3 linked regions of the Homo sapiens genome follow. The protein of the gene in region 3 interacts with the protein of the main gene of each other region in a pairwise test. Each region holds a gene or a part of one and is shown on either strand. Other genes may lie near its edges.

The links. Proteins that work in one complex are often made in the same cells at the same time.
Region 1: the proteins of PTPN9 (region 3) and TMEM86B interact in binary tests that used the Homo sapiens proteins (3 or more experiments, as listed by UniProt).
Region 2: the proteins of PTPN9 (region 3) and BSND interact in binary tests that used the Homo sapiens proteins (3 or more experiments, as listed by UniProt).

Annotation. Positions count from the first base shown.
Region 1 is NC_000019.10:55,225,686-55,233,640, forward strand, and holds TMEM86B (lysoplasmalogenase TMEM86B), read right to left. Parts: upstream 3,079-7,955; 5' UTR 3,057-3,078; coding exon 3,006-3,056; exon of another isoform or gene 2,801-3,005; coding exon of another isoform or gene 2,753-2,800; coding exon 2,506-2,752; intron 1,879-2,505; coding exon 1,496-1,878; 3' UTR 953-1,495; downstream 1-952. Other genes in the region: PPP6R1 (serine/threonine-protein phosphatase 6 regulatory subunit 1), read right to left, coding at 4,843-4,846, 4,928-4,999, 5,089-5,199, 5,725-5,806, 5,913-5,983, 6,117-6,297, 6,390-6,526. UniProt on the Homo sapiens protein: Catalyzes the hydrolysis of the vinyl ether bond of choline or ethanolamine lysoplasmalogens, forming fatty aldehyde and glycerophosphocholine or glycerophosphoethanolamine, respectively and is specific for the sn-2-deacylated (lyso) form of plasmalogen.
Region 2 is NC_000001.11:54,994,790-55,002,384, reverse strand, and holds the start of BSND (barttin), read right to left. Parts: upstream 3,453-7,595; 5' UTR 3,199-3,452; coding exon 3,022-3,198; intron 1-3,021.
Region 3 is NC_000015.10:75,575,822-75,584,398, forward strand, and holds the start of PTPN9 (tyrosine-protein phosphatase non-receptor type 9), read right to left. Parts: upstream 3,495-8,577; 5' UTR 2,956-3,494; coding exon 2,893-2,955; intron 1-2,892. UniProt on the Homo sapiens protein: Protein-tyrosine phosphatase that could participate in the transfer of hydrophobic ligands or in functions of the Golgi apparatus.

The DNA of each region.
Region 1 (7,955 bases), on a different chromosome or scaffold from region 3:
CCTAAATGCAGGTCATGGATGGAGAAGTCACCTCTCTGCTGTAAGAGTCCCTAAATGCTGGCCATGGATGGAGAAGTCCCCTCTCTGTCGTAAGAGTCCCTAAATGCAGGTCATGGATGGAGAAGTCACCTCTGCTCTAAGAGTCCCTAAATGCAGGTCATGGATAGAGAGGTCGCCTCTCTGCTGTAAGAGTCTCTAAATGCTAACCATGGATGGAGAAGTCGCCCCTCTGCTATGAGTCACTGAAAGCACATCATGGATGCAGAAGTCAAATAGGGTCTTGGAGAGCAGCTTGGACCCTGTCAAGTCTTCAGATGCAGAATCTGAGGACCTGAGGGATAGCAGCTTGCCGAGGTCACACAGCCTTGACAAGGAGCACAGCTGGGTTCCTCCTTCCCATTTGATTCCTACCCCCTTGCCGCCCTCCCTCCTCCAAGACCCCTCATCCTCAAGCCTCCCACCCTTCTCCCGATACTGCATGTGACTGCAGCGGGTTGTATCCCCTAGAAAGATATGTCCAAGTCCTAACCCCAGATACCTCTGCAGGTGACACTACTTGGAAATAGGGGCTTTGCAGACATACTTAAGGATCTTGAGATAGAATCACCCTGGGTTTAGGGTGGGCCCTAAATCCAATGACCTGTGTCCCTAGAAGGATGCGGACACAGAGGGAGGCTGCCAGTTGAAGACAGTCACATGAAGACGGAGAGACACAGCCACAGGCCGATGGAAGCCAGGGATTCCCGGGAGCCTCCAGAAGCCGAGAGGGCAAGGACGGATTCTTCCCTGGAGCCTCAAGAGGGACCATGGGCCGGAAAACACCCGGATTTTGGACTTTGGGTCTCCAGAACTGCAGGAGAGTCCATTCATCTTGTTTCAAAGCATCTGGCTTGGGGTAATTTGTGACAGCAGCCTCAGGAAACTAACACAAAGACCAAACAGTCCTCTTGGCTCAGTTCTGCACAATCCTCACTTTATCCCCCCGAATCCCCCCACCAGAGGGCCATGGAGGGTCCCACTGGGCACCAGGCCTGGTCCATGGGGAGCGACAAAGAACCTTCTGCTGTCATTAACCGCGATGGTTTATCACAATCATGACCCTCCCCGAGGCCTCTCCTACGGTAACAGCAACATCTACGGTTCCACACCCACAGGGAAAACGGATTCAGAGCAGCAGCAGGGGGCGGGCAGGCTGTGGGGCCGACAGTGAACATGGAGGCAGGCTGGTGGCTGGGAGGGCTCCATGTGGGCCTGGCTGAGGAGCCAGGGATCTGGAGTCAGAACCGGGGGAAGGCAGCTGGAACCCAGTAGTGGACTTGGAATTCCGCAAATCGTCCTCAAACGTCTTCAGCCAGAAGCGACGGCGGCAGCGGCGCCTGCAGACAGGCGTCAGGAAGCTTCGCTGCTGAGGGTATTTCTCAGGCTGGGCTGGGCTGGGAGGCCCAGGTCCTTGCAGGAGGAGAGGGCCTGAACACCGGCCCTTCAAGCTCCCTAGTCAGTCAGTCTTGGGCACCGGGCTCCTGAGGGCTGACAGTGTGATGAGGAGCTGGGCAGCATAGTAGGTGGTCATGATCACCAGGTGGGCATGGGGCAGGGGCTGGGCGAAGGTGTCCCAGGCCAGCACGCCATCAGAGAGCGTGAAGAGCAGCGCGCCCCAGCCGGCACTCCCGCCCTGGGCCAGGCCGCGCCACAGCATGGCCATCAGGATCAGCCCATAGGCTGCCACCGGCAGGACCATATCCGGCTCGAGGTGCTGGAGCACAAGGCTGAGGTAGGGGCCAGGGGCCAGGATGATGAGCAGCAGCAGGCCGGGCTGCAGGGGAGAGAAGCCGAAGGCCCAGACGTAGAGGAGGTGGGCGGTGGCAAAGGCGGCCATGCCTGGCGGGAGAGGGGTGGGGTACCAGTGAGGAAGGCCCATCCTGGGAATGGCCCCGAGGTCACCCCTCAGGGCCTAAGAGAAGGACCATCCCAGAGCACCAGGCCCCACCCTGGCCGAGCCTCCTTGCAGGTCTCCCCACATGCAGTGTCCATCCTTGCTCTGCTCAGAACTGCCAGGAGGCCCCACCTTCCCTTGGCCTCCAAAGCCCCATGGCCTCCAGCTCTCCAGCCACTCTGCGCCAGCCACCCTGGCCTGCTGGGCTACAAGCACCTGACACGTCCCTGCCCCGGAGCCTTTACACTCGCCCTTCCTCCACACAGGCATACAGCCCTTCAGCTCTGCCCAAATGTGACTTCCTCAGTGAGGCCTTCCTCAGCAACCCTGCTTCAAACTGCAGTACCTCCAGCAGGTCCTCACTGCCCTCTGCGCCACCTCAGCTACTGCCCTAACACCGCCTGCCCCCACCCCTCGCTGGAGCGTGAGCTGCCTCGGTCACGGCTGCGCCCCCCACTGTGCCTTTGACCACTGGAGCTCTCACAGGAGCCCTCTGCACCCAGGCTCCCATCCAAGTGCTGGGGCCTCTCTCACACGGGCATCTGGAAAGCGTCACAGCACCTTCCACTCACCAGGGACGAAGGCTGCCGGCCAGATGAGGCAAGCGTCCCCCACAGCCGAGCACACAAGGGCTCCCTGGAGGAGCTGGGTGTAGCCCCCGCTTGGGGACATGACCCACAGGAACCCAGCCAGGCAGAGGACGGGCAGGCACTTGACCAGGGCAGCGAACCAGGACAGCTGGTCCTCGGGAATCCAGAGGCAGAAGTACACGCAGCAGGAGAGGATGAAGGGGCTCAGCCACCTGCAGACATCTGGGCGCTTTGGGGAGTGGGGAGCTACTGAGCCGAAACCCAGCCCAGCCCCCATTCTTGGGACTCAGATCTCATGGCTCCTGTCCCACCCCCACCTGGGACCCCAGCTGTACAGGCTGGACCCATTCAGGGACCAGGCTGCCAGAACCCAGCTTCCCAGGGCCCAACCAACTCAAGGACAGCAGCTCCCAGACCCGCCGGCTGCTGGGGTTCCAGGGCCCTGTCCCCCCAGCCCCAGGCACAGCTCAGAAGGCTCTCACCTGGGCTGAGCAGTGAGTCTTCAGGGTCTGCCCCGCTTTGCCAGCGTCCATGCTGGCCTGATAGCCCCAGAGCGACCTAATCTGGGAGCGAGTGGCTTCAGGGGGTGGAGGGGAGGGCTCATGGTTACACGTTAACCCAAGGAGCGTCCTGTGGACTCTGTGACTGATAACAGGGCCCAGGGAGATGTTGTCCTCACCCTGGGGATGGCCCTGCCTGGCGCCCGCTGATAAAGCACTGTTGGCACTGGGGGTCCCTCTGCCCTAGCCTGCTGGGACATGGCTTCCTCCTCCTATCTGCCTGGGGAGGTTAGGCCCACAAATGCCTGTCCCCTTGTCCTGGGCCCCAACAATCAGAAGAGATGGGGTGCAGAATTCCAACAGCCACCCCATCATGGGAAGCGGGAGAGGGGCTGGCTGGCAGGAGTGCCCCTGGAGGGATGGGAAGGCGAGTCTGTCCTTCACTTGCTGCCCTAGCCGTCTCCCTCCCTGCTCCATGAAACCTTTCCTCATTCTGCTCAACCCCACCAAGCCCTCAGGGGCTCCACCACAAACACTGCTTCAATGGGTGACCAGGAGGGACCACCACGAATGCGGGGAACAAGCACCCTCTCCTGTTAGCTGAGCGAGCCCCCAGGTGACCTCCAAGCCAACTGCCACCCCAGTGAGGACGCTGTCCTCATGGCCCGGTCCACACGCTCCGGTTTCCCAGCGCCGCTCACCGGTGCCACTCGCTGCACACGCAGCCTACACTTCTACCTTCTACCTGAAAGACTCAGACCTACTGGGCGCCAGTACCCAGCCTCAATGCTGGGCTTGGTTACTGGGGGTAAGCAGGGGCAGGAGCAGGGATTTGAGCCTGTCGGTGGCTTCTATCCTCTGCCCAAGGCCCTGCCCACAGGTGGGGTAGACCTGGCAGGAGCCCTCACAGCCAGTGCCTGGCCCAGCCTGGGGCCTCTGCAGCCACAGGGCTCCCTCTGGCAGGACAGTGTGGGGGCAGACTGGGTCAGGAGCACCCCCAGCCTCTGGGGTGCAGGGATAATACAGGCTCCCCACCCCGCATCCCAGAACGTAAGGTCTGACCAGCAGAATCGTAAACTGCCTTCCTTTATTTATATTTGCAATATGAAATAGAAGCTCGGCACAAACGCACGCACACTCACACCAGCCTGGGAGGAGGGAGCTGGGGACAAGGTCACTTGGCAACAGGGCTGGGACCTCAGACCCTCAAGGCCCCTGGGGCTGTTGCCGGGGAGGCCCCTGCTCCCCAGAGCCGGACTGGCCTGGTTGAAAGTGCAGGGTCTGGGCAAAGGCACGGCCCCCACTCGGGACCCTCTGGCACCCCCACCCACGCTGGGCCGTCCCCCATGGTGGACCTGAGCTAAAAGGCCGGGTGTGGGCGTGGCCGTCTGCGCTGCAGCGTGGGACAGCTGGGCACGTGGGTGGCAACCTTGGGACCCCTAACACCAGCTCCCGCTGGGACGGAACAGGGAAGGCTGTGCTTTGGAGCCGCCAGCCCAGTTCGGTGTCCTCACTCTCTCTCGCTCTCCTCCCTCTCTCTATATAATATATAATATATGTTTCTCTCTCTCCATTCTCTCTATTTGACTCTCTGTATCTTTATTCTAGGAGGCAACGCTCCAAAACTTCTCTTCTCAGTGCAAATGGGGGTGGGTTGGGCCTGTCTCCCTGGCACCAGCCTCCTGGGGGTCCAGAGGAGAGAATGTGGGGGTGTCAGGGTGATGAGGGCAATGGGGGCCATCGTGGGACCCGCCCTGCCCCCACCCCGGGAGATCCACGGGAGGACGGAAGATTTGGCCGCCGCTGCCGCACCAGGCAGCTATCTGGAAACAGAGGGAGATGTCGTGTGAGGGTCTAGCAGGCCCAGCCCCACCTACCCAGCCCGAGGCTGCAGCCACACTCACTGGGAGCCTGGGGATGCAGGCCCTTCCGGGGCAGAGCCATTGGGTATCGGAGGAGGCGTGAGGGCCTGGGCACTGTCAGGGGAGAGAGGGGATGTGCAGAGGTCACTTCCTGCCCCACCAGCCCCACCCCCACCCCCCCGCCCTGCTGCCCTGGTGCTCACCTCTGGCTTTGGGGAAGCCCCAAGGGCTCTGGGCTCTTCTCCCCTTCTGTGGTCTGGGGGGGCTGGTGGGCCCCGGAGGCTGGGACAGAGGTAGAGGGGTCTCTGGTTGCACTGTGGGTGAGAGGCAGGTGCGGCTGTCAGCGTGGCCCCCACCGTCACCTGCTGACACCCTCACATCCCACCCGACTGAAGTCGGCTCACTGGGTGTGTGTCTGCCACCTGCCCCACGGGGAGGGGCCTCCCGAGGACGCAGCTGGCTCAGCGTGGAGGGACAGCACAGCCCTGGACAGGAAGACAAGCACCCCTCTTCCCGCCTCCTGTCCCTGTGGAGGAGGTACTCGAGGCCGGCTGAGACAGCCCCAAAGGGTCTTCTGCATGCTCTCACCCTCCCAATCCTTCACACCCTCCAACGAGCCCTTCCCAACCCTGGGGCTCAAGGGCCCCAAGCATCCCAGGCTACTAAGAGAAGAACCAGCCTACAGAGTGCAAGGGGCTGGGGCACAACATGAGGCTGCGCCTGGGGGTCCTGCAAAGGAGGCCTGGAGCAGCTCAGGGACAAGATGAACCCAGAGCCCACCTCAGCGAAGAGGAGAAAAGACTTCTCCCGATACTAGGCAGCCCCACCTCGCTGCTCACCTGTCCGAGGAGCTGGGGGCAGAACGGATCCCGTGGAAGGTGGCCTGAAGGTCCCCGATGCTAACCAAGGCCTGGCAAGGGGCTGTGGGGGATAAGAGATCTCAGCTGCAGCTCCCAGCAAGCTCGGAGCTGGCCAGGCTGCTCTCTCTGCCCAGGGCCGCGGGTGGGCAGGGCAAAGCGGGGCTCACCTGAGGGCTCCGTGACTTTGCTGCCTTCTGTGGCTTCCTGAGGTGCTGAGGGGGGTGTGGGGTCCTGAGACCTGGTAGGCGAGAGAGGCAGCCCAAGGGGGCAGCTAGGGTTAGCACTCGAGCCTATGAGAGGACGGGGACCCCATGGCCACCTCCTGGCCTCGGGATACCAGCACCATTTAGCCCGTTCCATCCGGTTCTCACCTGAGCTGCAGGGCGTCACGGGCAGGAGGGCTGGCCAGGCTCTGAGTGGGGAGGCCCTGGGGCACACTGAGGGGCCCCTGTGGGGCTGGAGGCCCAGTGTGCAGCTCTTCCTCCCCGGAGACTCGGGGGCTGGTCGGGGCATCTGTAGGCACTGGGTCAAAGGTGGCTGTCCAGCTGGGGCCTGGGATAGAGGTGGGGGAGCGGGATGGAGGGTGAACTCAGTAGCAGGCAGACAGCCCTGTGTACACCTGACCACACCGCCCATTCATTCACCTGGAGGCTGAGGGCCAGGGCTGGGGTAGGACAGAGGGGTGGCCCCTCCACGGGCTGCACAGCCAATGCCCTCCTCGTCTTCCTCCTCCTCCTCGTCCTCCTCTTCTTCGTCCTCACTGTCTGTGCTGCCTCCACTCCTGCCCCAGAAACCACCTCGTCAGCTAGCTGTGTGGGACAGACCGGCCGACACCCATCCTGTTCCCTGCAGCCCAGGGTCAGCCCAAGGAGAGCGGGCTGGGATGACAGGCAGGTCACAGAAGGGTCCAGGGAGCCTGGGGTGTGACGACACCAGGAGAGGCTGGGAGAGGGAGTTCTGAGCCAACGGCAAGAACACAGGCGGGCAGGGACAGAATGCGGCCGTAAGGAGACCGTCCGTCGCCAGTCATCCGTGGAGGGCAGGCCCTGGGGAAGTGGGCTGAGCCTCAGCCATGGCAACCAGAGCAGACAGACCCACTCACCAGCTCTCAAGCCACCTCCCAGCCGTCACCTCACACGGTCACCACAGTGACAGGCCTTCCCACCAGCAGGCCCACCCTCTGGACAGAGGCTTCACACTACTCTCTCCCTCCAACTAGAAACTCCAAGAAGGCAGAGATGGCTGAGTTTTGCCACTGCTGTATCCTCAGCCCTGAGAAACCACCAGGCACCCATAGCTGCTCCAAAAACACTGGCTGAATGTTGACTAACACACACCTGTGAGCATGAAGAAAATCCAAGCAACCTACGTGCTGATCAACCGGGGAAGGGGTAAGCAAAGTAACACTAAAACTAAGCTTTAACAACGAGGGTGCACTCTGAAAAACGCCATCATTAGGCGATTTTGCTATTGTGTGAACATTCTAGAGTGCACTTACACACACCTGGATGGTGGCGCCTCCTGTACACCTAGGCTCTGTGGTATAGCCTATTGTTCCTAGACTACCGACCTATACAGCATGTTACAGTACTGAATACTACAGGCAATTCTAACAATGGTAAATGTTTGTGTATCTAAACATAGGAAAAATACAGCAAAAATAGAGGATTATAATCTCACGGGACCACTGTCATATGTGGTCCATCGCTGACCCAAAGATGCAGTATGGGACTATATACTATGTCTAAAATGCTGACCCAATATTTTTGTCTTAACAGAGTAACTGACTACTTTAACTGGAAAGTAATATATCTGTATATAGTTAAAAGTAAACTAAAATACTCAACGACTAAGGAGTATAAAGGAAGCCCCTCAACCTAACATAAGGCATCTACAAAACCCCACAACTAACAGCATGCTTACATGGCAAAACGCTGAATGCTTCCCCCTAAGATCAGGAACAAAACAAGGATGCCTGTTCTTGCCACTTCTGTTCAACATTGTCCCGGAGGCTAGCCAGGGCAACCAGGCAAGAAAAGGAAATTAAAATCATCCAGATTTGAAAGGAAGGAAAATGAACTCTATTCACATGACATGATTCTGTACATAGAAAATCCTAAGGAGTCCACTAAAACTATCAGAACTCATACATTAGTTCAGCAAGGTTGCAGGATGAAAGATCAACATACAAAAACCTATTGTATTTTCAT
Region 2 (7,595 bases), on a different chromosome or scaffold from region 3:
CCTTTCCCTGCTCACAGCTCCCCTGCCCCATCTTCACTAATGGGCTCAGCACCTCCAACTGTCCCATCCACTAGATTTGCCCTGATCCCTTCTCCTCTCTCATGCCTGAGGCCCAGCTGACCACCAAATCTGACCAGGTCTACTTCAGAAATTCAATAAGATAACCTGGGTGGAAGTGCTGGTGCTATGCCTAGCCACAACGGGTACTCTATGTGAAGTGAACTGTAAATGTCACCTTAGTTCCTACAGCTTTGTGTTTGAATTCTGCATTATTCCAGATGACTGTCAGCTCTCACCAAGACCAGAGAAGAAGCCTCCCCACTGGTATGGCTGCCCCCAGACCTTCCTTCTTCTGGATGTCTTTCTCAAACTGCAAAGCTGGTCGTGTCCCATTAACTAAAGGACAAGCTCCAAATTCCTTACCATGGCATCCCAGGCCCTGAAGAGTTGAGCCCCACTCCCTCGCTACCTTTACCTTCCTCCCCTCTGCCTCTCGTAGCCACAATGGCCCACTTGCCTTATTCTTTTACCACATTGCTTTGATCATGCTACTCTTCTGCCTGGAATGTCTTTCCCCATCTTCTCTGCTTGGTGAACTCTTATCTCACCTACAAAGCCCAGCTCACCTTCTCTGTGAAGCCTGTTTCCTCCCCATCAGGCAGCAAATAGCCTCTCCCACTAGACCTCTAGCCCCTAAAAGACATGGACAGCTTAATGCATGTTGGTATTGGCTACCCCTCACCCCTATATCCTAATTAGCTAATTCTATTCCCTTATATTTATATCTCCCCATTTATCAAAACTTTCCATAGGTCTGGCACAGAGAGCCACGGGGAGGAGGCTGAGGGGAGGACAGGCAGGAGCACTGCAGGCAGCGTTGGCCCAGGCACCAATGAGACCAAGCAGGATCCAGGGAGCTTCGCCTCTAGAGTGTCTCCCTGGTTTATAAGGTGCTTTCCTCCCTTCCCTTATTGGAGTCAATTTGTGCTGGCTCTACCAGCCTGCATCTCTGAAACACACACTCACACACACCTGCACTCATGCAGAGGCCCACCCAGTGCCGCAAATACCAATCCTCAATCCTAAGAACAATGCCTTCACATATGTTCCATGGCAGGTGTGATGCCAGGTCTCCCCCAACACACACACACACACACACACACACACACACACACACACACACGATCCCACTGTGTTCTCCCAATCAGCCGTACAAGGCTCAGAGCTGAGGGGGAGGGACTCTTTCTGCCAAGGTCACAGAAGTGGGACATGAAGGAGCAGGGATTTGAATCTGGGCCTGGAGGTTGCCACAACATGTGCCATTTTCAGCCCACCACGCTGCCTCCACAGCACGTGAACCCATGAATCTATCAACAGTTACTCATTAATACCCAGCAATATTCCCTCCTCCCCTCCCCTCCCCTCTACCGTCACTCCCATCAGCCTACCAACCATCCCAGAGCCAGCTCTATTTAAGAGCGGGGGCAGGAAGGATGCTCCTCTCCACACCTCTGCCATCCCTCTGCTGTCCCCCAGGGTCCAGCCTCCTCACTGGGAGAAGGATTATAATAGCAGTGGTGACATGAGTGGCTTTGGCCCCAAGGACTTCTCCCAGTGACCTCTGCTCAAGGAATTGCACAGACAGAGGCAAGTTGACTGTAAACTGCCTGCTAAATGACTACAAACCAGCCCAGACCGCTCCAGCACTGAACAGAATGACAGCCCAGGGTTGGCCCGTGGAGGGGGCAGGGCTGGGGAGAGCCGGCCCAGGCCCCAGGGAGCCATCCCCCTTCTTCCCTGAAACCCTGAGCACAGCCACCCAGGTGGGAGGAGAGGAGGTGTGGGGGTTGCTGAGGACTGCCTGGACCTGGAGCCCTAGATATTAGGTCCAGCAGGGCCCCCAGATATACCCCCTTTCCCACCCCCCCCTCCTAACTCACACAGTGTACAAATGAGGAAACTGAGGCTCAGAGAGGAAAGGGGCTTGAGCAAAGTCTCCCAGGCAGTAAGAGACAGAGCCCAAGTTAGAGTCCCTATTTCCCTCCTTTTCTCCCTGGGTCTGTACCTGACCAGCTGTGTGACCTTGGAAGTCACCCAGCCTCTCTAGGCATTGAAGATTCGCAACTCCTGGCATTTCCATTCCACAGAGCTGTTGGGAGGATCAGTATGGGTAACAGTGGTAGCCCTTCATCTATAAATAACACCTTACAGTTTACAAAATATTCCTATATCTTATCTCTTCTCTGATCTTTATAATGACCCTGTGAAGCTCTGTGGAAAATAGGGGCAGGGATCTCATTTGCAGATGAAAAAAATGAGGCTCAGAAAGACAAAGGTCATAGAGAGTTTGGAACAGGACTTGAACTAGAACTCAGGACTCCCAAACCAGTGCTCTTCCCATCACTAAATTACACATAAGGCTGAGAATACATGAAGACTCTAAAGGATACTGCCCAGTGCATGCCACCAAGGTTAGACCTGACCTACCCTGGAGCTCTCAGTCGCTCTGGGACCCAGAGGTAGAAGACCCAAGGTGAAGGGTGACGTGTAAGTCACACGCATCTGAGCTCCAAACCTTGCTCGTTAGCTGTGCAGCCTCTCTTTCTGGACCTCAGAAAGGCTCAGAAGGTGGAACTACAGAAAGCACCAAAAGGCTTAGGATGAGGGCTGAACTGCACCCTGAACGCAGGAGTGCCTGGCAGGGGGTCAGCGCTCATTAGCTTTTGTTTCAAGCACATGGTGTGTTGTGTTTGCTGTGTCTATACCATAGCTTCCGGCTCAGGGCTCCAGATCCAGGGGCCTTCTGATCAACCCTTAGGCTAAGGGATGGATGGATGGATGGATGGATGGATGGATGGATGGATGGGACAGACGCTCAGGAGAGCAGAGAGAAGACCGAGTCAAAATGAGAAGAATGAAAAGACAACTAAAGGATAGGGGGTGAGGCATGGCATACAGGCACAGTGTCCAGCCCTCCTGGCCCCAGCTGACCTGGCCCCACCCAGCCCCACTACCACCTACCTTGGGGTAGCACTGGCACATGCTCCAGATGATGCCCCCGATCACCATGACGCTGCCCATGGCATAGAAGGTGCCGTAGACCTGGGGCCGATCATGGCTCATGAGGAACGTACCGAGGGCCAGCAGGAAAAGCCCCAGCACAATGAAGCCGATCCGGAAGGTCTTCTCGTCAGCCATGGCTGCCTGGCCAGTCCCTGGCCTGCACACCCCCGGGAGAGGGGGTGGCTGTAGTTCAGCCTAAACACCGAGACAGGCTTACACAGGGAGAGAAGACACTGAAATCGCTGCAACTCAAGGCTTCAAGGGAGAGCAAGATCCCTTTCAATCCCGCTCCAGTCCCTGGGCCCACCAGTTCAACAGGGCTGGAGGCGGCTCGCTTCAACGGACCCACACCCAGCCACCTTTACTCCTTGCCCTCTCACCTTCCCTCTGGGCCCGGCTGGCCTGGAGTGTGTGTGTGAATCTGAGCGAGGGAGCACACAGGGGAGGGAGAGTGGGAGGTTACCGGGGCTGGGCCCCAGCCAAGGCTTTGACATCACCTCATTTGCCTACTGTGGGGTTGAGCTGGGTGGACAGGCAGCCTCACACCTTCCAGCTCTAGAAAACAGGGTACAGTTCTGCAGCTGAGAGCTGTTAGAATGCTATTGGAGGATTCCAGGATCCCACAGGCTGGCATTTCAGAATCCTGAAGAATTCTACACTCTTCAAGGACATGTGCCTATCCAGGGTTCAGGAATAATGGCCCATATGTACTGGCTGGTGACTATGTGCAGGGCACCATTCTAAACATGTTACAGCTATTAACTCATTGAAGGGAACCCAGTGAAGCAGCTACTACTATCCCCACTTTACAGAGGACCCTCGGGCACAGACAAGTAACTTGCCCAAGGTCACACAGCTAAAGATGGCAGAGCTAGTGGGATGTGAAGCCAGAGGCCGTGGGCCTAGCCACGGCGTGATACTTCTTAACTGCAGCTTGAGGGTGAAAAGCGTGGCTCTGGTGGCAAGGCAGGCTGCCTGGGTTTGGATTCTGGCTCCTCTACTGTGGGGCAGTGTGGTCATGATCAGGTTACCTCAGTTTCCTCCTCTGTAAAATGGGAATAATAATGTACCTCCCAGATTTGGTGCTGTCTCCAGGCCTGGCCTCCTTGGGTTCCTCCATCCCCTTCACATTCACACGCTATGCACCACCCAGTTGGGCTTTCAATGAACTGCTCCCCACCCACCCCTAAGGCTCTCGGAATTAGTGCCCCTGCAGGGTGTGAGTGACTGACAGTCACTTCCTCCATTTCCTTGCAGCCTGATCTAGGAAGATGCCTTCCTAAGAATAACACTAATGAGGCATTTTAGTCCTAGGGACAGGCTGATGGAAGAAATCAGATTCCTTTACAGGATTACAGGAAAATGAGGACCATCGGTCTCTACAAGAGAATGTTCACTTGGCGTTTACATGGGGTTAAATCGCCGATGCAGGATAAAAGGCTTTCAATGGGCTCCCTGACTTGCTGGGCTTGGGGATTTCCTGTTGGCGGTCATCACCTTCTCCCCTCCTGCCAGCAGGGCTGCCCTTGTTCCCTAACCCCACACCTGTGCTCACAGCTGCCCCTCTAACTAGACGTCCTTCTCATAGGCCCTTTTTCCAACAGGGGTTTCTCCTTCCTCACACCCACCATCGCCAGCCCTCAGAGTCCAGGTGCACTTGACAGTTCGCAGAGGAGGTCCTGGAGGGAGCTCAGGGGCCCTGGCTGAGCGATGGCTGAGGGGCAGGAAAGGGCTGAGTTATCAGGTCATGTCCAGGTCTGGTTCTCAGGGTGAGCTCAGGCAGGTGGCTCTGCTCCGGGCTAGAGTTTTGTCAACTGCAGATTGGGGATAGGTATTAGGCCACCTCCCAGGTTTTGTACAGGGAAGGGACATAAGGGGAGTGGGAAAAGGCAAGTACTTTGTAATCTGTGACTATTAACAAAGCAGGACCTTCCACGGAAACATTATTATCATCATCTACTACAGGCTCAGAGAAGGGAAAGGGCGAGTGCCGTGTTACCTAGCCGGTGCCCCTCCCTGGAAAGGAGACGGAGGCCCAGAGGGACCTCAGCCCGTCTGGCCCTGGAGCCCAGGCGGGTGGCGGGAACGGTCTCCGCAGCCGCGGTCCTGCAGGGCCTCGTGGGCCGCCCGGCGCTGAGCAAGGCGCTTCCCCCGGGGTCAGCGGCTGGGCTCGGACCCGGTGATGAGCAGTCGCGGCGGGGAGGGGAGTCATCGCCCGCATTTCACAGGCGAGGAAACCGAGCCTGCGGAGTGGCAGGGGCTGGCCAAGGTCTCCCTCGGCTGAGTCGGCGGCTGAGCGGTGACCGCACCTCCCCTCCCAGCCCCATGTAGATGGATCTGCTCTTCAGCCATTCCTCAGAGGCCTCGCGGTCACCCGGGCAGTCTTCTTCTCTCGCGCCTTTTCTTTCCTCTACACGGCCCAGCCTTCTTCGCCCCTTTTCTCTCTGAGTCGCTTCTCCTCTTAAAAAAAAAAAAAAAAAATAAGGTAACTACGAGTAAGAAATTCAGTAGCAAGTAGGAAACAGGTAGGAACTCTGGAAAATGGGTCTCACCTAAGCTCTTCCACAGAGTCGGGCTAGGGATTAAGTAAGGACATGTGTGTAGGGTGCGCTGGAAATGTTCGGGTGCAGCAGCTCCCCCTCCTCTCCTGTAGTCCCCCCGCCCTCCCGCCTTACTTCACCTCCCCCGGGCCACCTGGGGGACTGGGGAGCAGAGCGCGCGGAGTCTTTCATCGTCCAGCAGAGGGCGCGCTAACCCCAGCTTTCGGGATCCTTGCGAGCGGGCTCCCATGACACCCCGAGGCAGGGAGGGAAAGAGCACGCCCATTTGACAGAGGTAAGCATCGAGGTCCACGCAGGCAAGGCGAGCGACCCAACGTGGCAGAACCTGGGAACAGACAGTAGAGCTAGGAGTCCACCCAGGTCCCCAGGCAGTCTCTGGTTGAGCCCCTACTGTGTGGGGGACACTGAGCTGTTAGGAACTCGTACACACAGGGCTTCAGGGATGGATGGCGCTCAGTCCTAACTTCTGGGGCACCTTCTGGGGCACAATACGGTAATGGCTTTGCGATGCGTGCGAGGTCCCGAATGTGCACAAAGCAGAGAGAGGAACAGATGGGGATGAGGGGTGAAGGGACAGATTCACAGAAGGGACACTTGAGAAGGCAGTTGGAGTTCTGACGGGGCAGGAGAAACCTCCTAGGCACAGAGGCCAGCATGTGCAAAGGCACTGAGGTACGTACCCGCCGACACACAGCTGGCGAGAAAGCTCTAAGTGCTGTGCACAGGCTGCCTGCATTGCATCTTCCTCCCCAGGCCTGCCCCTCCCATAACCCCATCCTTCCGGTTAGCAAGCCCCGTCACCAACCTCACCTCCTCCATCACACCCACATCCTATGGGCTCTACCTCCAACATGTAAGAATCCAATCACTTCTCACCCCTGACGACTGCTCATCACCGGGTCTGAGCCTCCACCATCTCTTTCTCTCCCTAACTGGTCTCTACTTCCATCCTTGACCTCTGAAGTGTCTTTGCAGCCCCAATACTGGGTCAGATCATGTCACTCTTCTGCACGGAGCCTTGGAATGGCTCCCCATCTCATCAGAGTAAAAGCCAAATGCTTTAAGATGACCTGAAAGGCTCTGGATAATTGGCCCGCGCTGCCTGCATATCAACCCTCTGAGCTTGCCTCCCGCCACGCCCCCTCTCACTCACCCATTCCACCACCCTGGCCCCATGCTGTTCCTGGAACACGCATGCATCCCAGGGCCTCCGCACCTGCTGTTCCTTCTGCCTGGAGTGCTGTTCTTCCTGTAGCTGCATGGCTCCCTCCCTTACCTTCTTCAGGACTTTGCCCAAATGTCGCCTTCACAGTGAGGGCTTCCCTGATCCTGCTATGAAACTGCAGAATCGCCTCCCCAGGGGTTCCCTGTATTCTTTTCTCAATGTTTCTCCATAGTGCTCACAGCCACCTATCATACTATATGCATGATTTATCTTGTCTCTTGTCTGTCTGTCTCCTCAACTAGAACTCAAGCCCCCACAGGGTGGGGACTTTGTTTTGAGCACTGCTCTATCCCCAGGGGCTAGGACAGGGTAGGCTCTGGATGCGTGTGTGAATAGAGGGATGGAATCTGCATGCCTGGGAGAGAGAGGCCGGAGAGGAAATGCAGGCAGGAAACCTGCTGGGGCTAAGGTATCTGACATTTTTCACAGAGGTTATGCATGGGAAAGATGAGAACCAGATTTTAATTTTTCAATTAGAGAGAGAAAGATCCCAGTGAGCAGCAATGAGCCACCGAGGGGGTAGCACAGGGATTTCTGACTGGGGTGGGCTGATTTAAGGTGGAGAGCTCCAGGGGCAGGGGTCACCAAGCCCACCCAGCGGGTAACAGAAGCCCGGGAGGGGCCCAAGGAAAGCACGGGGGAGGTCTGAGCTCTGAGGATCCCTGTCATCTGAGACTCTGGTGGCCAGCACAAGATGAGGTCTGAATAGGGGGTGAAGAAACTGGATGGTCGGGCCCAGGAGGAAA
Region 3 (8,577 bases):
GACAGAAGAATGGCATGAACCCAGGAGGTGGAGCTTGCAGTGAGCCGAGATTGCGCCACTGCACTCCAGCCTGGGCAACAGAGCAAGACTCCATCTCAAAAAAAAAAAAAAAAAAAAAAAGAGTACTCTTGGCTGGGCACAGCGGCCCAGGCCTGTAATCCCAGCATTTTGGGAGGCCAAGGCGGGTGGATCACGAGGTCAAGAAATCGAGACCATCCTCCAACATGGTGAAACCCCGTCTCTAGTAAAAATACAAAACTTAGCTGGGCATGGTGGCACGCACGCCTGAAGTCACAGCTACTTGGGAGGCTGAGGCAGGAGAATCGCTTGAATCAGGGAGGCAGAGTTTGCAGTGAGCCGAGATCACAACGCTACACTTCAGCCTGGCAACAGAGCAAGACTCAGTTAAAAAACAAAAGGGTACTTCTGGCTGTGTGCAGTGGCTCACACCTGTGATCCCAACACTTTGGGAGGCCAAGGCGGGTGGATCACCTGAGGCCAGGAGTATGATGAGACTAGCCTGGCCAACACGGTGAAACCCCATCTCTACTAAAAATACAAAAATTAGCTGGGCATGGTGGGTACCTGTAATCCCAGATACTCAGGAGGCTGAGGCAGGAGAATCGCTTGAACCCGGCAGATGGAGGTTGCAGTGAGCCGAGATCACGCCATTGTACTCCAGTCTGGGCAACAAAACCCAAACTCCGGCCAGGCGCAGTAACTCACGACTGTAATCCCAGCACTTTTGGAGGACGAGGCGGGCAGATCATGAGGTCAGGAGTTCAAGACCAGCCTGGCCAACATGGTGAAACCCCGCGTCTACTAAAAATACAAAAATTAGCTGGGCATGGTGGCAGGCGCCTGTAATCCCAGCTGCTCGGGAGGCTGAGGCAGGAGAATCGTTTGAACCCTGGAGGCAGAGGTTGCAGTGAGCCAAGATCAGGCCACTGCACTCCAGCCTAGATGACAGGGCGAGGCTCTGTCTCAAAAAAACAAACAAACAAACAAAAAATCAAAACTCCATCTCAAAAAAAAAGAGAGTACTCTTATGTGATATTAAACTAAAATATGGTAACATTAGGCATTACCATAATTAGAACTATACTGCTTTTGTTTCAATATTTTGAAATGCTTGTAAAAAAATAATATTTTGTAGAAAAAAGAGATAAGATTTTAAAAACACACACACACACAATCTCTTGACTTTAATAAACATTTTGCCGTTTCCATCCTAGTCCTTGTTAATGCCCATCACATTCAATTCAGGGTAAAAGATAAGGTTTTTACTAGTTAAACACATCTGTATATATGTGTATGCACTATGTACAAAGTAAAGCCAATACCATGTCAATACTATCAATACTTTAATATTTACTTTTCCTGGTTTTAGTTTTCAAATTTGCAACGGATGCTATTTGCATAGAATACTGATGGCTTTAAGTCTTAAAAACAGAAATCTGACTGACCCAAGGAAAAGGATGAAAGAAAGAGATTTTGTCCCTTTAAAATCAGCCAACACATCCTATCTTAGTACTGAAGTACTTCCCAATTCTGGCAGAATGGGCTCCTTGGCCACCTGCTTGCACTAGGGTCTGACTAGCATTTTATTAACATCCAACTGCAGTTACCAGGACATTCATTACCACTGCTTGTACAAAGCAGAATTCTTTTTAAATTTTTTTCCCATACAGATTTCATCACCAGGTGTCAAAAGACAAAACCGTGGCCTGAGGCCAAATAGAAAAATGTCATCTCCACAAATAAGGAGAAAAGACAAGGACTTTAAAAAATCAGGTCAACAAGCCCATTAGCCAATAATAGTTTGTAAAACTGGACTGTCTTCACACTAGAGGCTGTGCTAGCAAATGTGGTCCTTGGAAACAAGAGCTGTAGAGCTTGAAATGGGTTGCCAGCATGGTTTGCCTTTTTCTTTTTTCATGTTTATTTTTATTTTTTTTATTTATAACATGGAATCAGACTATGACTATAATCGAGCATAGCTATGGCGGGGTATGGGCAGTGCCAAGGAAGAGACAGCGAAAAGCCCGTAGGGTTCCCAGTCTAAGCTAGCAGACCTTCCCATCTTCCTCAGGAGTGGTCCCTGTCTCCGCAGCTGGAATGTGCGGGAGGGAAAGTTACAAGGGCCCCCAAAATGAGACAGCAAACCACTTCCTTCTGAAAACTAAAGGTCATAGGCTTTTAAGGAACAATAGAGCTCAATGTAAGCTTCAGAAAGATGGAGACAGTCAGATGAGACGAGGGTAGGGAAGCGCGGGTGAGGAGATGCGCCCCGTCTGGGATAGCTGAATAGGGGGGTCAAGGCCAGGGACTTTAGGAACACGAGAAGGGCTGGATCTTCCATAACCTGCCCAAGTGGGCCTGAGAAACCTAAGAGGCTCCTCTGAAAATCTAGGGCATCTATGCATCCAATACTCTCAGCCCTCTCCTCGGGAAGGGAGATAATCCCCACAGGAAGCACCCCCCAAACTGGGGCTTTTCCTGCCCTTCAAAAGCCACAAACCCTCACGGAAAACATTTACAAGGGAGTGGAAGGGCCGGGGGCAAGCAGCGGTTCTGCAAATCTCGGGAAGAAGGCCCCTGGATCCAAGGAACTTTGCCCCTGGAATAGGGGGTGGGGTGCGGAGGGCACCGTCTGAGGCTGGTAAGCCTCGGCGAAAGAAGCGGCGGGAACGGGAGTAGGGTCCCGTGGGTCCCCCGACGAGGGGGTGGCGGCCTGGGGCGCGGTCGCCGGTGAGGGAGGCCCGCGAGCCGGGCACGGGAGCGGGGGGCTGCGGCCCCGTGGCTGCAAAGAGCCGGCACTCGGGAGGCAGAGGCCGGCGTAGGCCTCGGGGGCCCGGACACACCCAACGCGGCGGCCTCGGGCCCGCTTACCTGCTCCTCCTCCGGGGTCAGCTCCGGCGCCATGTCGGGCCGGGGCGCGGTCGCGGGCTCCATCCCCCCGCCACCGCCGCCGGGCGGACAAAACTCGCTCGCGAGCGCGGGAGCCCGGCGCGCTCGGCCTCCGCTTCCGCGTCCCCGCGCCTCAGCAGCCCGGGGCCGGCTCGCGCATAGTGTGGCCGGCAGGGCCCGGCGCCTGCAGCGGCCGCAAACGCCGCTTCTGCTTCCTTAAGAAAAATCTCTCCGAACTGCCGCTCTCTTCCGGGAGGAAATCCTTTTTTATATTATTCGCTCCGTTCCTCACACTCCCCCTTATCTCCTGGGGAAGAAAAAGTGCAGGCGAAGAGCTAACAGCCACTCGGGATTTAAAAGGAAATAGGAAATCAGGAACTTTTAGAGCCGGGAGCGAAGGGTCGGCGGAAATTTCCCGAAGGCCGCCGACCCCCTCGGCGCCCCGCTTCCTCGGCCGCGCTCCCGCTCCTCCACAGCGCCACAGAGCTCGGGGCCGCCCAGCCGGGCCGTCCTCGCGGACGCTGGCCCTGCGACCTGCGCGGCTGCCTCAGCCAGGCTCCTCGCGGGCGGCCGCAGCGAAAGGGAGGGAGTGGAGAGGGAGCGAGGGAAACGCGCCCCCCTCCTGACTCACGGCCAACGCTGCGGCCGCCCCGCGGCCGCCCGAGCCCCCCGCGGCTCCATTGAGAAACTGAGCGTCTCATTCACAAGCTGGCGGCGAGGAGGGCCCGGCGGAGCGAGGACGCAGTCCGGGAGGGGGAGACAGAGAGGAGCCCGGGCGGGGGAGGGGACCGGGAGGGGGAGGGGACCCGGGCGGGGAGGGGACCCTAGCTGGACGGAAGGCAACTCGACTGCGGGAGGGAGAAAAAGGAAGAAAAGAGTATTTCGTGAGGCTCAGATCCTCGGAGGAGGAGGAGAATACGTTCGTTTGCAAATTATCTGCTGACTGGCACCTCTCCTGGGGTTAACTTGCCGCTGCCACCTACGCGTGAGAAACCCACAATCCTCAACTATTTGTCGCTTGCAGCCTGAAAGACCCTGGAAAGGTTGCCTGCCAGGCCAGGATGCTTAGGTGGAAGGAATCGCACCTGCCTCCCTCTCTCTCCCTCCTTACTGGCTGCACCCTGTAATTCATCTCCAGTGTCGCTAATTTTAATCCCCCATAGAAACGACATCAGACTCCGAACATCATTCAGGAATGACGCGGCCTTTGCAGACCTTTGATTTTCACTAGGGCAAGTGCAGCAAAGGGTTCAGGATTAGGGGTACAGTCTTGGAGTCATTTGGGGAGGAATGGGGCATAGAGAAGGCAAGGCTGGGTCTGGTACGTTGTTGCATTATTCCAAGCCAAAGATAAATATTCCAAAGGGACCCAAAGTCCACAACTAGTTCCAAGGCTGAAGCCCTGGAGCCAGTCCTGAGGGACCCAAAGGAGGGGCCTTCAGACAACAGGAAGGTGCTGTGAGTTGTGATGCTCCTATGATTTTTTTTTTATTTTTTTTTTTGAGACGGAGTCTCTGTGTCGCCCAGGCTGGAGTGCAGTGGCGCGATCTCGGCTCACTGCAACCTCCACCTCCCGGGGTCAAGCGATTCTCCTGCCTCAGCCTCCTGGGTAGCTGGGATTACAGGTGCGAGCCACCACGCCCGGCTAATTTTTGTATTTTTAGTAGAGACGGGGTTTCACCATGTTGGTCAGGCTGGTCTCGAACTCCTGACCTTGTGATCCGCCCGCCTCGGTCTTCCAAAGTGCTGGGATTACAGGCAGGCGTGAGCCACCGCGCGCCTGGCTTTTTTGTTTTTCTTTTTTTGAGACGGAGTCTCACTCTGTCACCCAGGCTGGAGTGCAGTGGCGCGATCTCGGCTCACTGCAAGCTCCCCCTCCCAGGTTCACGCCATTCTCCTGCCTCAGGCTCCCAAGTAGCTGGGACTACAGGCACCCGCCACCGCGCCCGGCTAATTTTTATTTTTATTTTTTTTATTTTTTTGTATTTTTAGTAGAGACGGGCTTTCACCATGTTAGCCAGGATGGTCTCAATCTCCTGACCTCGTGATCCGCCCACCTCGGCCTCCCAAAGTTGTTGTTGTTGTTGTTGTTGTTTTAACACAGGGTCTCACTTTGTTGCCCAGGCTGGAGTGCAGTGGCGTGATCACAGCTCACTGCAGCTTCAAAGTCCTGGGCTCAAGCAATCCTCCCGCCTCAGCCTCCTGAGTAGGTGGGACTACAGGTGCACACCACTGCACCTGGCTAATTTTTTTTTTTTTTTTTTTGGTAGAGATAGGGGTCTTACTATGTTGCCCAGGCTGGTCTCAAACTCCTGGTAAACTGCCTTTGCAAAATTATAACTGATGATTTTATGACAGTGAAAGAAATCAGACCTAACTGACTCTATCTTGTTTCTAACCCTTAAGCTGTCCTTGTTCATTCCTGGGCATAGGCCGAACTAACTTTGGGAAGGAATTCAGTTCATGGTTTGACTCTGAAACAAAATTGATAATAGCCCTTTCCCGAAAAGACCCCCTTCTTCCCTGGGGTCCAGTCTGCCTTTGCAGGACTAACAGATTAAGCTACAAGATTAGAAATTACAATTTAGGGGTCATGCAGCCATGGGCTCCAAGAGTCTAAACCTCCCCAAACTGCTCCTGGGGATAACATCACTATTGTAAAACCTAAGATCAGTGCTTGAGATATTTTGCAGACCCTGCACCCAGTGCATCAGCTGATACCATCCAGACTGGTAATCTGGCCCAAATAGGTCTGCCATCCCAACCAGGAACAGAAGACAGCAAGAAAAACTCATTTCAACTCCCTATGATCCAATCTCAAACCTGACCAATCAGCACTCTCCACTTCCTAAGCCCCTACCCACCAAATTATCTTTAAAAACTCTGATCCCTTAATGCTCCAGGGAGACTGATTTCAGTAATAATAAAGCTCCAGGCCGGGCATGGTGACTCACGCCTGTAATCCCAGCACTTTGGGAGGCTGAGGCAGGCGGATCATGAGGTTAAGAGATCGAGACCATCCTGGCCAACATGGTGAAACCCCGTCTCTAGTAAAAATACAAAAATTAGCTGGGCATGGTGGCGCGTACCTGTCGTCCCAGCTACTCGGGAGTCTGAGGCAGGAGAAGCGCTTGAACCCGGGAGGTGGAGGTTGCAGTGAGCCAAGATCGCATCACTGCACTCCAGCCTGGCGAAACAGCGAGACGCTGAATCAAAATAATAATAATAATAATAATAATAAAACTCCACTCTCCTGCACAGACGGCTCTGTGTGAATTACTCTTTTGCCATTGCAATTCCCCTGTCTTGATATATCCGCTGTGTAAGCAGCAGGCAAGGTGATCCCATTGGGCAGTTACACTGGGCTCAGGCGATCTTCCTGCCTCAGCCTCCCAAAGTGCTGGGATTACAGGTGTGAGCCACCGTGCCCAGCCTTCTAGGATTTTTGTTTTTGTTTGAGATGGAGTTTCGCTCTTGTTGCCCAGGCTGGAGTGCAATGGCACGATCTCAGCTCACTGCAACCTCCACTTCCCAGGTTCAAGCAATTCTCCTGCCTCAGCCTCCCTAGTAGCTGGGATTACAGGTGTCTGCCACCATGCCTAGCTAATTTTTCGTATTTTTAGTAGAGATGGGGTTTCACTGTGTTGGCCAGGCTGGTCTCAAACTCCTGACCTCAGGCAATCCACCCGCCTCAGCCTGCCAAAGTGTTGGCATTACAGGCATGAGCCACCATGCCCGGCTCCTTCTAGGATTTTAAAAACAATCCCTGACCTCAACTAATTTCTGCATTAATGCAATAGGAACTTCAGGCTGCCCTTGGTAAGAATCAGAGACGATATCCTTGGTATTTGAATCTTTATCTCAGCTAGGATATTTTCTCCTTTGCATCAATACAGCTGACTGGAGGTTGACTTCATCACTCCTTTAGTTTCAGTATTGTAACCAGTCTGGAATACTTTTTTTTTTTTTTTTTTTTTTTTTTTTTTTTGAGTGGAGGTCTTGCTCTGTTTCCCAGGCTGGAGTGCAATGGCGTGATCTCGGCTCACTGTGACCTCCACCTCCTGGGTTCAAGCAATTCTCCTGCCTCAGCCTCCTGAGTAGGTGAGATTACAGGCGTCCACCAGCACACCCTGCTAATTTTTGTATTTTTAGTAGAGACAGGGTTTCACCATGTTAGCCAGGCTGGTCTCGAACTCCTGACCTCACGCAATCCGCCCACCTCAGCCTCCCAAAGTGCTGGTATTACAGGCGTGAACTACTGCATCCAGCCTGCTTTCTTTTTATTGAAGTGTAATATACAGAAAAAGTACAAATATAAGTGTACTGCTTGATGAATTTTTTTATTTTATTTTTTGAGACAGGGTCTCACTCTGTTGCCCAGGATAGAGTGCAACAGCACAATCCTGGCTCACTGCAACCTCTACTTCCTGGCTCAAGCGATCCTCCAGCCTCAGCCTCCCAAATAGCTGGGACTATAGGTGCGTGCCACCAGGCCTGGCCCATTTTTATATTTTTTGTAGAGATGGGGTTTTGCCACATTGCCCAGGCTGGTCTCAAACTCCTGAGCTCAAAGCAATCCACCCACCTCAGCGTCCCAAAGTGCTAGGATTACAGGCGTAAGCCACTGCACCCGGCCAGATGAATTTTCATAAACTGAACACACTCGTGTCTGTGCCCAATGCACAGATCAACAAATAGAATATTCTGAACTTGCCAAAGCCTCGCCTTTTGCCCATCCCCCACCCCACAGTCAGTTACTACTCTGCTGAAGGGTAACCACTATCTTGCCCGTTTTTTTTTTTTTTTTTTTTTTGAGACAGGGTCTCTCGCTGTGTCACCCAGGCTGGAGTGTAATGGCACGATCTGGGCTCACTGCCACCTCTGCCTCCCGGGTTCAAGTGATTCTCCTGCCTCAGCCTTCAGAGTAGCTGGGATTACAGGCATGCACTACCATGCCCATATAATTTTTGTGTTTTTTTTAGTAGAGACGGGTTTTCACCATGTTGGCCAGGCTGGTCTCGAATTCCTGACCTCAAGTGATCCACCCACCTTGGCCTCCCAAAGCTCTAGGATTATAGTTGTGAGCTATCACTCCCAGCCTCAGGCTTGAACTCCTGGGCTCAAGTGATCTGCCTGCCTCCCCCTTCCAAAGTGTTGGGCGTCAGCCACCGTGCCGGGCCAAGTATGCTTTTTCTCCCTAGGCAAGCAAATGGTTCTAGGACTAAACTGGAGTAAGAAACAGCAGGACCTGAGTAGTACAAACCATTGATTGGAGACAGGAGAGGATGGAGTCTCTCAACTCACTATTTACACTTCACATTTGTTTTGCCCACTGATCCTCAGGACACCAGGGGTCAGTGATTTATCCAAAGTCACACAACTAAATAATTAGTATTGAGCTAAAACTTGAACCCAGGCATTCTAACTCCTGATCTAGGAACTGGGTGAGGAGGAGAATTAATAAAGATATTTAACTGAGTGGGCTGAGAGAGAACTCAGCAGTGTTTTCAGAGGCACAGCTGTGTGTGTGGGCGTGTGGGTGTGTAAGGAAAGAGAGTTCTCCGGAACTGTTATCCATCACTGTTTTAACAGGACAATGTTTGGAAATTTCTGAGCACAAACGTGAATAACAAAACAAAGTGCAAGGCGGCTGGCTGGCCAGTTTGT